Regions from separate parts of the Homo sapiens genome. Here regions 2, 3 and 4 are each reported to be linked to region 1. Evidence: microRNA targets listed by miRTarBase, many of them from high-throughput screens and not tested one by one. Region 1 holds a microRNA gene; each other region holds the end of a gene's coding sequence.
The links. Region 1 holds the annotated microRNA hsa-miR-548ah-5p (AAAAGUGAUUGCAGUGUUUG, at 1,318-1,337, opposite strand). A microRNA usually pairs through its seed, bases 2 to 8, with sites in the 3' UTR of a target mRNA and lowers its output. Matches are read on the target gene's strand: a 7mer-m8 pairs with bases 2 to 8, a 7mer-A1 pairs with bases 2 to 7 and ends in A, and an 8mer does both.

Region 2: the mRNA of PVR is a reported target of hsa-miR-548ah-5p. Seed matches in the 3' UTR shown: 7mer-A1 at 84-90 and 7mer-m8 at 28-34.
Region 3: the mRNA of YTHDF3 is a reported target of hsa-miR-548ah-5p. Seed matches in the 3' UTR shown: 7mer-A1 at 403-409.
Region 4: miRTarBase lists TFAM as a target of hsa-miR-548ah-5p. Seed matches in the 3' UTR shown: 7mer-A1 at 1,989-1,995.

The regions. Positions count from the first base shown.
Region 1 is chr4:76,573,898-76,576,897 of GRCh38, reverse strand. MIR548AH (microRNA 548ah) reads right to left here and starts at 1,347; the gene lies at 1,272-1,347. All of the region lies in intron 2 of SHROOM3 (shroom family member 3), which reads right to left.
Region 2 is chr19:44,661,272-44,664,271 of GRCh38, reverse strand. It overlaps PVR (PVR cell adhesion molecule), which reads right to left. Exons shown (of 8, transcript NM_006505.5): 7 at 2,949-2,980; 8 at 1-2,532. The coding sequence ends at 2,461. Among named protein-coding and RNA genes, the nearest start is that of CEACAM19, 8.7 kb to the left of the region's middle.
Region 3 is chr8:63,209,420-63,212,419 of GRCh38, forward strand. YTHDF3 (YTH N6-methyladenosine RNA binding protein F3) reads left to right here. Exons shown (of 5, transcript NM_152758.6): 5 at 264-3,000. The coding sequence ends at 287. Among named protein-coding and RNA genes, the nearest start is that of YTHDF3, 42 kb to the left of the region's middle.
Region 4 is chr10:58,394,712-58,397,711 of GRCh38, forward strand. It overlaps TFAM (transcription factor A, mitochondrial), which reads left to right. Exons shown (of 7, transcript NM_003201.3): 7 at 217-3,000. The coding sequence ends at 363. Among named protein-coding and RNA genes, the nearest start is that of TFAM, 11 kb to the left of the region's middle.

The DNA.
Region 1 (3,000 bases):
AGTCCTTTATTTTTATTTTTAAAAATTTAATTTAAAAATTAAAAATATTTATAACAAAATTTACCATCTTACCCATTTTTTATTTTAACATTTTAATTTTTAATTTTTGTGGTTATAAAGTAGGTGTATACATTTATGGGGTACGTGAGATGTTTTGATACAGGCATGCAACACATAATAATCACATCATGAAGAATGGGGTATCCATCTCCTCAAGCCATTATCTTTTGTGTTACAAACTACCCAACTACACGATTTTAGTTATTTTTAAATGTACAATTACATTATTATGGATTATAGTCACCTTGTTGTGCTATCAAAGAGTAGGTATTAGTCATCCTACCTTTTTGTATGCATTAACCATCCCTACCTCCCCACCAGCCTCCTACTACCCTTCCCAGCCTCTGTAACCATCCTTCTACTCTCTGTGTCCATGAGTTCCATTGTTTTGATTTTTAGATCCCACAAACAAGTGAGAATATGCAAAGTTTGTCTTTCTGTGCCTGGCTCAATTCACTTAACATAGTGATCTCCAGTTTGATCTATGTTGTTGCAAATGGCAGGATCTCATTTTTTTAAATGGCTGAATAATATTCCATTGTGTGTAAGTACCACATTTTCTTTATCCATTCATCTGTTGATGGACACTTAAGTTGCTTCCAAATCTTAGCTATTGTAAAGAATGTTGCAACAAACACAGGAGTCCAGATACCTCTTAGAGGTACTGATTTCCTTTCTTTGGGGTATATACCCCATAGTGGGATTGCTGGATCGTATGGTAGCTTTCTTTTTAGGTTTTTGAGAAACCTTGAACTGTTCTCCGTAGTGGTTGTACTAATTTGCATTCCTACCAACACTGTACGAGGGTTCCCTTTTCTCCACATCCTCACTAGGATTTGTTACTGCCTGTCTTTTGGATATAAGCCATTTTAACGGGGGTGGGATGATATAATATCTCATTGTAGTTTAGATTTGCGTTTCTCTAATAATCAATGATGTTGAGCACATTTTCATATATCTGTTTGCCATTTATATGTCTTCTTTTGAGAAGTTTAACAATATTGATTCTTGCAATTTGTGAACATGGAATATCTTTCCATTTTTTGTATCTTCTTCAACTCCTTTCATCAGTGTATTATATTAATAGTTTTTATTATAGAGATCTTTCACTTATTTGGTTAATTCCTGGGTATTTAATTTTATTTGTGGCTATTGTAAATGGGATTACTTTTTAAATTTCTTGTTCAGATTGTTCACTGTTGGCATATATTGGGCTGGTGCAAAAGTAACTGCAGTTTTTGTCATTACTTTTATTGGCAAACACTGCAATCACTTTTGCACCAACCTAATAGAAATGCTGCTGATTTTGGTATGTTGATTTTGTATCCTGTGACTTGACTGAATTTGTTTATCAATTCTGCTAGTTTTTTTGGTGGAGTCTTTAGGTTTTTCCAAATATAAGATCATCTTATCTGCAAATAAAAATAATTTGCTTTCTTCCTTTTCAGTTTGGATGCCTTTTCTTTCTCTTGTCTAATTGCTCTAGCTAGGACTTCCAGTACTATGTTGAATACCAGTAGTGAAAGTGGGTAGCCTTGTTGTGCTTCAGATCTTAGAGGAAAGGCTTTCAATTTTTTTCCCATTCAGTGTGATACTAGTTGTGGGTCTGTCATCTATGGCTTTTATTATGTTGAAGTATGTTTCTCCTATACCCAGTTTTTTGAAGGACTTTTATCATGAAGGGATGTTTATCATGAAAGGATCAAATGCTTTTTCAGCTTCACTTGAAATGATCATCTGGTTTTGTTCTTCATTCTATTGAGAAGATATATAGTATTGATTGATTTATATATGTTGAGCCATCCTTGCATCCCAGAGATAAATCCCGCTTGGTTGTGATGAATGATCTTGTTGGTGTACTATTGAATTTGGTTTGCTGGTATACCCGTTTTTTAAGGGTGCACTTCAGTGGCATTAAGTATATTCCCATTTTTGTAGATCCAATGTCCAGAACTCTTTTCATCTCGCAGAACTGAAACTCTGTACCTACTCAACAAAACTCCCTAATCTCCCCTCCCCCAACCTGTGGCAACTGCCATTCTACATTTTTTGTGTATGAATTTGACTACCCTGGGTACCTTATACAAGTGGAATCATTTACAGTATTTGTCTTTTTGTGACTGGCTTATTTCACTTAGCATAATGTCCTTAGGGTTCATCCATGTTGTAGCATATATCAGAATTTCCTTTGCTTTTAAGGCTATACATTTCTTTTTTTAATCACAAAATGATTTGAGTTTATGTAGCTAATCAATCAATTAGATTAAGAGGGAGTATCCGGTCTGTCTAATAAGAGTTTAGGCATGAAAAATGGTAAGAAAGGCGTTGGTAGAGAGGGAGAGAGAGAATTTGCTGAAATATTTAATGCCATGGTTCTTTAGGGTGCATCAGAATCATGGGGAAGACTTGGTAAATCAGATTGCTAGGCTCAAACTCCAGAGTTCCCAATTCATTAGGCTTAGAGCAGGGCCTGGGAATTTGTATTTTCCAGAAGTTCCTGGGCATGATCACACTTTTGACAACCATTGTAACCTATCCAGGGTGAGGCCTAGAGGATTCTAATTGCCAAAATTTTCCCATCGTGCAAAGAAGATACCCCTCCCAACTAAGACAAGAAGCTTGAAGTTATAGAAGTAGGGAAGCACAGAGAAGAGTGAGAAATAGTGAGAAAACCCAGCCCTCAAGATCCCAGCAACTTGTGGAAATGAGGGAAAAGATGGTGGCAAGTCAAGCTGTGAGGACCAAGTTCTGATTTCTCTTCTAGCCTCAGGGAGGAGAGGGAAAGTGTGTGAGCTAAGTGAGGAGAATGTCAAAGGGCTCAGGGAACCCTGGCTCCACTGCACCATTTGAGACCCTAGGAGAAGGTCACTGGAGTAGGTCTGGCCTGGCTCAATTTCGAGGTCTCTAGAGGTCCAGACAGAAGGAAGAATCTCAGACATC
Region 2 (3,000 bases), not on the chromosome of region 1:
ACGCCACTGCACTCCAGCCTGGGCAACAAAGTGAGACTCTTATTTCTAAAATAAATAAATAAATAAACAAATAAATAAATAAATAAAGTGCACTATTCAATGGTTTTTTGGTATAATTAATTTTCAAAAATGGTGGTTAAAAAGAGATAACAGACAATTTGCCATTTTAGCTATTTTTGAGTGTATGATTCAGTGGCATTCATTACATTCACAGTGTTGTGTAAAACTGGATATCCATGTGCAGAAGAATGGAGCTGGACCATTACACTCCAAACACAAATTAGAATGGATCCCTCATGTCTTTTTATCTTCTAATTTTGGGACGTTTATGTACTATCTAATTAAAAAAATTAGCTTAGCATGGTGAGGGGCAGCTGTGGTCACAGCTACTTGGTAGGCTGAGGTGGGAGGATTGCTTGAGCCCCGGAGTTAGAGGCTGCAATGAGCTATGATCGTGCCATTGCACTCCAGCCTGGGTGACAGGAGACACCGTCCCTTAAACATTTTTTTTGGAGAGGAAAAAAAAAAAGACAAGCTGTTCCTAAGGTGCCTGGGAATCCCAGCCCTTATGGCCCTCTTCATTTAGCGTCTTGCTTCCATGCCTCTGGTTCCATCCCACGTGGTGACAGTACACATGAAACCTGTCTGCTCCTTGATTTCCACAAAAGACCCCATTGCACACAGCCGCTGGAGGTACAATAAATAAGCTTTAATGAGATTCTGGGTGCTGGAGACAGACAAGGAGCTTACGTGCCACCAAAGCAACCAATGTTCCTTTATCTCCCCAACTCTGTGGGGTCCCACTGGCCTCCTCACCCTTGAGCCCTTTGCCCCTGCCATCCTGCTGGTTCCTATCTCTTCCCCACACTTCTCTGTTCCCGGCTCTTCCATCTCTGTCCAGAGCAAATCCTCTGTCCTGCTTATTTTCTCTTGCAGAGCAGCTCAAGCTTTGCATTCCCATTTAGCATCTTGGCCCAAGGTCTTCTCTCCCTCAACGTATTTTCCCAAACAGTTTTCTTTATAAGAGGAATTCTGCTGTCTGCCCTCAAGATCATAGACCTTTTTAACTTGTCAGTTGCACTGAGCAGCTGGGCCTCCTGGGTCTTGGGTCGCATCCATCTTGGTCCTATAGGAGCGTGTCCTGAGCAACTGCAGCGCTGCCTCCCCCTGCATCCCTTCCCCCTTGTGTTGGAAATTGCATTTGCTTCTTTTGTGGGTTATTTCCTGCCAGTCCCAGCTTGCTGGCTGCAGATGCTGGCAGAAAGTGGCTGCAGATGCTGGCAGAAAGTGGCTGCAGCTGACAACCTTCTTCAAGTTCACATCTAGTAGTTTTCTCTGCTCCTTGGACACCCCCCAGGCAGCTGCTTGCGGCCTGAATTGCAGCCTCTGGTGACCAGGGTCAGTGGCTGTTTCTTGTAACCACAGAGATCTGACGGATACAGAGATTTAGAAGCTCAAGGCCAGAGGCCAAATTTTTACCAAAATTCTCTGGTGGCCCACACCCTTCTGTGTGGTCTGCTATGCAGTAAAGGCTTAACCTTGCCCAAAGAAAGATCGGGCCCTTTATCCTCAGCTCCTGGGCATTCATCTCTAAGCCCTTGGAATATCCTGCCTGGTAGCTGATCTTGGAGTCTTGGGCCACTCTGGGTGGTTCATGCTAATGATGTGATTTATGGTGGGGGTCTTGGGCCACACGGTATTGGCTTGATGTATGAGGTCAGCCGTGTGGATGGTGAGCTGCTTAATTCAGCACTTTGGGAGGCCAAGGCAGAAGTATCACTTGGAGCCAAGAGTTCAAGACCAGCCTGGGCAACACAGGGAAACCTCGACTTTACAAATAATAAAAAGATTAGCCAGACGTGGTGGCACATACCTGTAGTCATAGCTACTCAGGAGGCTGAGGTGGGAGGATGACTTGGCGTTGAGAAGTCAAGGCTGCAATGAACTGTGATCTCACCACTGTACTCTAGTCTGCCAACAGAGCCAGACCCTGTCTCAAGACAAACAAAAAACTCTGGACACAAAGATCTCGAGTGAGCTGCTCTGGTTGGCAGTATTGGCAGTACTTCTTGCATGTTGTCACATGTTGCTGTGAGAATCAGGTGCTGCCTATATGGCTCCACTGGGAGAGGGCAGATGGAAGCCGTCGCCTCATCTGTCGTGGAACGTGTGCTGTGCACCTCCTCCCTTTGCTGATCTTAATCTCTGTCCTTTTACTGTAATAAACTGTAACTGTGAGCCTAACAGCTTTCCTGAGTCTAGTGAGTCCTTCTAGCAAATGAAAGGAGGGTGGTCTTGGAGACCTATGAACTTGCACCTGCCCCCGTCGTTTTGAGGTCTGGCACAGGGAGGGAGGCTGGTCTCTTTGGAGGGGGTCTTCATCCATTGGGGTCGGGTCCAACTCTGGAGGCCCACGTCCTTGCCAGCTCCAGTCTCTCTCCCCTCTCAGTCCCGACGCTGTCACCTTGTGCCCTCTGTCTGTGGATCCTGGGAAGAGCTGTTCTCTCTGCTCACAGCTGAATAGGAGACATGCTAGAAGAGGGTTTTCAAATTTTAGCCTTGGGGCTCTTTTGAACAAAATCAAACATCTTCCCACTGAAGCCCCATGTGCAAAGAACTGCAGGCCCGTCCCCTCCTCTCTCCCTGGAAGCCAGGGCAGTGCTTCTCAAGGTGTGGCCATGGGTGGAATTGAAGGGGCGTGGGGCAGGGGGGAGAGAGCGGATATTAAAATGCAGATTCCCTGGCCCCATCACAGACCAGACTGTCTGGGGCTGCGTCTTAGCAAACTCTACAGGGGATTCCGCCCAGCAGGAAGGGTTGGGAAATGCTGCTCGAGGCACCAGGAGAAAAGACCCAGGCTCCTGAGGCCGGGCCGTGGGCATCTGAAGACGTCTGGTCTGTAGTTCGTGCAGACCCCACACCCTCCTTAGCTCCAACACTGCACTTACCCCATTAGCTGAGGCGCTGGCATGCTCTGTACCTGGGGAAATAGGAGGGGAA
Region 3 (3,000 bases), not on the chromosome of region 1:
AACAAACAATAGGGATGTGGAGAGGATCTATACTCTCCTGAAATAGGTCTTTGTGTTTGAGAGTTCTTTATGTAAAATGTTTTGTGGTAATAATCTCACTATGGTATATAGAGGTAATTATCAATTGTTTTTAATTACTTGAATTAGTACTTGAACTTTATATGGAGATGATTTACATTATATGTGCATATAGTTTAAATCTTTAAATAATGAGAGTTTTTCATTGTAATTCTTTTTGTGTGTGTGTGTTTTTTTTTTTTCAGGAGAGAAATAGAAACAAACAATAACCGTATGAAGATGTCCTGTTAAATTTACAACACTAACGATGTAGACTCTGGAAATGCCTAATAAGTCAAAGAAGACGTATTAAAGCTCTTTTCTGCTTAAGGTGACATCTTTGAACACTTTAACACAAAGTTGACTCTTCTCGTAATGGTTTTCATCAGCGCATCTGCCCTTATACTCTTCACCAAACACACTTGAGAACTGTAACTTCGTCAAGCACTTTCTGTCCTGAAGCTTTTACCAGTATCTGCTGTCTTTTGTAATTATGCATCCTAGCTAAGGCACAGAAGACTGAATGAATGCAAGGATTCATTAACTCTTTGAATTTGTTAAATACTAACAGTTAACCATTAGAAGTGGTTCAATGATGTAAGAGTCACACTGCTTCAACTTTTTCTTTGTTGTAGTTTTTAAATTGTCGATTTTTAGCTATTTGACAGATTAAAAGCAAAATAATCATGCCATATTTAGTCCTGGAGTTCAAGTCTAAATGTTGATGTGAAAAATTATTGTAGTAAACTTTTAATATGGCAAAGCAACCTTAAGCTCTATTTTAGCCAAATGAAACATAATCTGAAATTATATTAGAACATTTCCCTTGTCTTCAAACTGTTTGGTGTAACAGAATATTGATATGCAGCTTGGTGGATTTCACCAGTTAATGCACATTCTTCTTCCCTCCTCCCCCCATTAATATGTATACTGAAAAATGTGCATTTGTCTGAGGAATTATTTTGTTTGCTACCACTTAATGAATCTCAAAATTTTGAGTAAATGTACCTCAGTCTAATCAGACTTTTTATGACCTTTATAACTACATTTAAAACCCTTAATTCCTATTTCTGGGTGTTTGCGAGCCTGATTGCTATCATGAAGTAAAAATTTATTACTCTAGGTATTCACTAGCTAAATAAACATAGTTCTTGTTTAGCAAGCATATGTTGTTCCTCAGCTCTTTTCTCCAGCTTTTGCAGTGTCCTGGCATCCTTAAAATACTTTGAAAATATGGCCTTGATCCATGGATTAAATCAGTATCTAAGTGAATGTGTTGATGTTTTATTGATCAGATCTATATAAGTGGGAATACAGCATATATCTGGATATTCTTATAGTTATCTTTTTAACATCTTATTTTTTTCATTAATTACATATCAACATTAATTTTGTATCTTGAAGCAAATTGATTTTGTATAATTAAATGTGTCAAGCATCTGTATTAATTGATTTGATGGCATAAGGTTATGAAAATAATGTACTGCCCCATGTATTACTGTTCCAAAAGGAGAAAGCTATGTAGAAAGATACATTAAGGGTGAAAATAGCAATACAGTAGATTTGAATACCTTGATGTTTTGCATTACTTCATTTATGTTTACATCATGTTTAGAAATGTTTTCATTTACTGTGGTCTTTGGTCACTTCAGCTCAAAGACCTAGTGATGGATATTTCTTTGAGGCTTTCATTTATATAATTTTATTTTGTACAATGTTTTTTTTAAATGTGCAAATACTGTATTCAAGTGAAAAAAATACAGTATTTGTAGATAACCATAGCTACTACACAGTTCTTCGGTAGTCCCAGTGTAGTTATATCAGTGTTTACTGAAGGGAACATCAAAATATTAATGGTATATTATAAAATAAAGACTTTCTTAAAGGAAAATTGCACCTATTTTACCTTTTTAAGAGTAAGCCATGAAATCTTGTAACATGTCTCTTAACTATTTATAATGAAAAGTGGCATTTGGGTATAGTCACCACAGCAATGTTCTACATCCCTAAGATTATCTAGGTAGGACATGTCAAAGATGACTGTTGTCATTCTGGAGGTCCTATTAGAGAATATTATAAAAGGGTGACCTTGTAGGAAGGATCTGAGTCCTCCCCCTGAGGTTCTCTTTTTCTTGGTGCTTTATTAGCAACTCTGGATATTTTTATAAAACTAGTTACATTATAAACGGTTTCAAACATGTTTAATTTACATTAGGTTTTTATGTAAGAGTGTCATGGAAGCACTCAGCAAGCAGGCTGATTGCAATAGACTCAGACATGCGAATAAATGTAATTGAGAGTCTATTCATGGTGAGGAGTACATCCCAGTGCCTTTAACCTGGATTTCTAATCTTAAGTGAAATGGGTGCAGCATTCCTTTGGAAAAAAAAATCTTTTTATTTTCAAGTGATAATTTTGTGTTTTTCTCATATAAGTTTTCTCCAGAGCACCCACCTTCTCTTCCTTCTTGGTCTGTCATTATATTGCAAAATATTTTTCCTCTGAATGAAATTATCACAGGTTGTCTCAAGCACAACCAACTGAATGTCTCTTAACTGTGGGGACCAAAAGGGAGAGAGCCTGGGGTCTACAAGAGGAGACACATCATCAAATGTTTGAATGATCACAAATTAAGACATTATCAGCCCAGTAAATTTCTTGCTTAATGTTTTTCCAAGTTCTGGCTTGAATATTTCTTATTAAAGCTATCTTATGTGGGTATTTTATTTTGAAAGGTATTATAGTTTGTATATTTAACAGTAAGGAGGAAACTGTAACCAAAATTAGTATTTCTCTATACGTATTGGTACTTGAAGATTCCTTTCAAAAGAAATCCAGCGTTTTCCTAATTTTAGTACTTAATTTCTCTTTTTAATTTAAGTGATCTTTCTAATTCGAAAGCTGTGTTCTTTTTGAATACCGTGCATGGGGGTTAAGCTGATG
Region 4 (3,000 bases), not on the chromosome of region 1:
TTCATTCAAAGAGATAACAGTCTATCTCTTACATTTTCATCATCTAACTTTTATCTCATGAAAATATTTCTTCTCCAGTCTGCCTTTATACATGTAGAATGGTAATGTAATTTCTAAAGTATATACAGAAGCATTCCAGAAATTAATTGCTATTTTAAATAATCATTTTATCTCAAAAAATAAGTAAATCATTTTAACAGTTATGCTTTTTCTCAGTTATATATTCAGCATGCTAAAGAGGACGAAACTCGTTATCATAATGAAATGAAGTCTTGGGAAGAACAAATGATTGAAGTTGGACGAAAGGATCTTCTACGTCGCACAATAAAGAAACAACGAAAATATGGTGCTGAGGAGTGTTAAAAGTAGAAGATTGAGATGTGTTCACAATGGATAGGCACAGGAAACCAGTTAGGTCTCAATACCTGAAGCTATCGTAAAATTAAGAAAGGATAAAGTTGGTAAACCTTTTATATTTAGTATCTTTTTATTCAGCTCATGGACTTCTGCCAGCATAATACTTGCTTTGGAAAACCCAGATAAAGGTTCATGCAAACTTTATTTTGTGTTTAGGAACTACTGAGGATCAGAGTAATCCAAGCAAATGTGAATCATTTTACCTTTGACAAAGGTAAATCAGACTATGAAGTTTTTTTTATACAGGATGATGACTATGGAAAGAGTACTCTTGTTTCCTTATATTATGGAGGCAGGAGTTTCGTTTTCAAAATTGTTACAAATTGTAGAAGCCACGGTGTTCTGTGATATAAGTGTGTGTTTTTCATAAAGCAGGCAGAACTCATCTAGGTAAATTACAGTTCCTAGGTATAATTCACATTGTATTCAGAGTTGATGGTTGTACATATAAGTGATTGCTGGTTTTAGTTGCAACTTTGTATAAAAGGGACTGAGAAATTTATAAACTTTTTTCTTACTGTCTTTTTTCTAAAGTAAAAACAAAGAAATTATGTGCCAGATTTATGCATATTATTTTATGTTGCATAGAATAAAATTTTTAATCTTTAATTTTACATTTCCTAAATATATTTTAAGACGAAACATTTGTTCTATAGCTTTTCCCTTTTTTTAAGTAAGGAATTTTATTTTTTTCTGAATTATTTTCTCTCGTGAGTATATTGATCCAGAAAGAAAACTTGTATTATGTGTGTTTTAAAATGAGAAATCTAAAAAACGAAAAGTCTCCAAAGTCTCTGGAATTTGAAACACTTTGCATAACGTATAAAAGCCTGTTTAAGAGACAGCCAACTATGGCCTGTGGATCAAATCCAGCCTGCTGCCTGCTTTTTATGGCCTGTGAGCTAGGAATTGTGTTTATAATTTTAAATGTTTTTTTTTAAAGACTTTTATGATACTTGAAAATTAACATGAATATTTAGTGTTCATAAATAAAGTTTGTTGAAACACAACCAAGATCATTCTTTTACTTGTCTATGGCTGCTTTTCTGTGGCAGAGTAGCTGCCACAGAAACTATAGCCCACAAAGCCTGATATTTACTGTCTGTCTGTTTATGGAAAAAATTTATCAACCCATGGTCTATAGTATAGTGTGATATGACTACTGTTCCAATGTATTGAAGTGTTGGGATAGTTTTTTCAAATGTTTTCAGATGTTCTTGTTTTAGAATCATTGTCACCTTTAAGAGGAAAAAGGTCATCACTAGATAATCTAAACAAATTGTTGCTTCTCAGTGTTAGCAAGGAAAATAATCTAGTTTCAAATTACATTGCAGTATAATGAAAAAGATCCATATACTGTGGAATGATATTCTTTTAAAATTATTTGCTATGGCTTGGTAAAAATGTACTTTTTCCAGTAGCACATATCACAAGAACCTCACTGTAGTTGAAAGCCATCTTTCTTTAGTATTTGTTTATCCTTTTAGGAGAGTCAAGCAAAGGTTTTCACCACCTGTTTGAGCAGAATAATTCTCATCAGTTCACAGATATAGGATAACTCAATTTATATGCACTTTATGCGTTATGCAAAATATTTAGAAATTGTAGATTCTAGATCTCCAGAAAGACTTTGAAGACTTTGATGTCACAAAAAGATGACTTGTTATATGCTGAGCTTGACAAAGGTAGGAATGGGAGAGAAAAATAGTAGCTTATGAGGAAATATGAGGCTTTAAATATATAAAGTTGGATATTTTAAAATAACTTTTCCCTGTGGGAGCTTCTCACTCTGGGTGCAGACAGGACAGTGTTGGCCATTGGTGAAATAGATAGGATGGGTTTGAGGCCAGAGCAGTCTGGGAGTAGGGGGAAAGAGAAGGAGGTGTGCTAGTGTCTATCACAGGCTTTCTCAATTAGGTTTGCAGGAGAAAAAGCCCTAAGTCCCTGTGTCATCTAGAATGGTACTAATTATGTACAGTCCCTAGGAGAATGGAGAAAATCATAACTCAAATCATCGACTCAATTCTGTTCTCTTCAGATGAGCTCAGAGAGCACATAGGAGTGTTTGTAATGAGGGGTATGTAATGATTGAGATAGAGGAATGAGTTACATAAACATCTCGGGACAAATGCAGCATAGAAAACATCTTTGTAGTTACCCTGCGGGGAAATTTCCTCTGAGTTCTTTTAACATTAACTACCCGTATTATTTTATACTTAACATTCATATCATACCTTCCCAAATATATTGGGAAGTTCAGTGTTAAGTACGTTTCTCAAGTACTTAACAACTTAATATAGGGAGGAAAGGTGTAAACAGTGAAAAAAGAGCAAAACTATTTTATGGTAATTTTATGGTAGTATCAGCTTGTATTTGGTTCTCTGTTTCTAAAATAATGTAATTTTTAATATTTTAAATAATAGGATAACCTGGTTTCCAAGCCTTTTTTTCCCCCGACATCCAGAATACACACTGGATCCAAGCCTTTCTTAAACATCAGTACATGTGGAAGACTGGCATGCCATATACCAAATGCCATTCAGCTGTAACAGTATACACAGATTTTCTCTTATAAAGAATAAG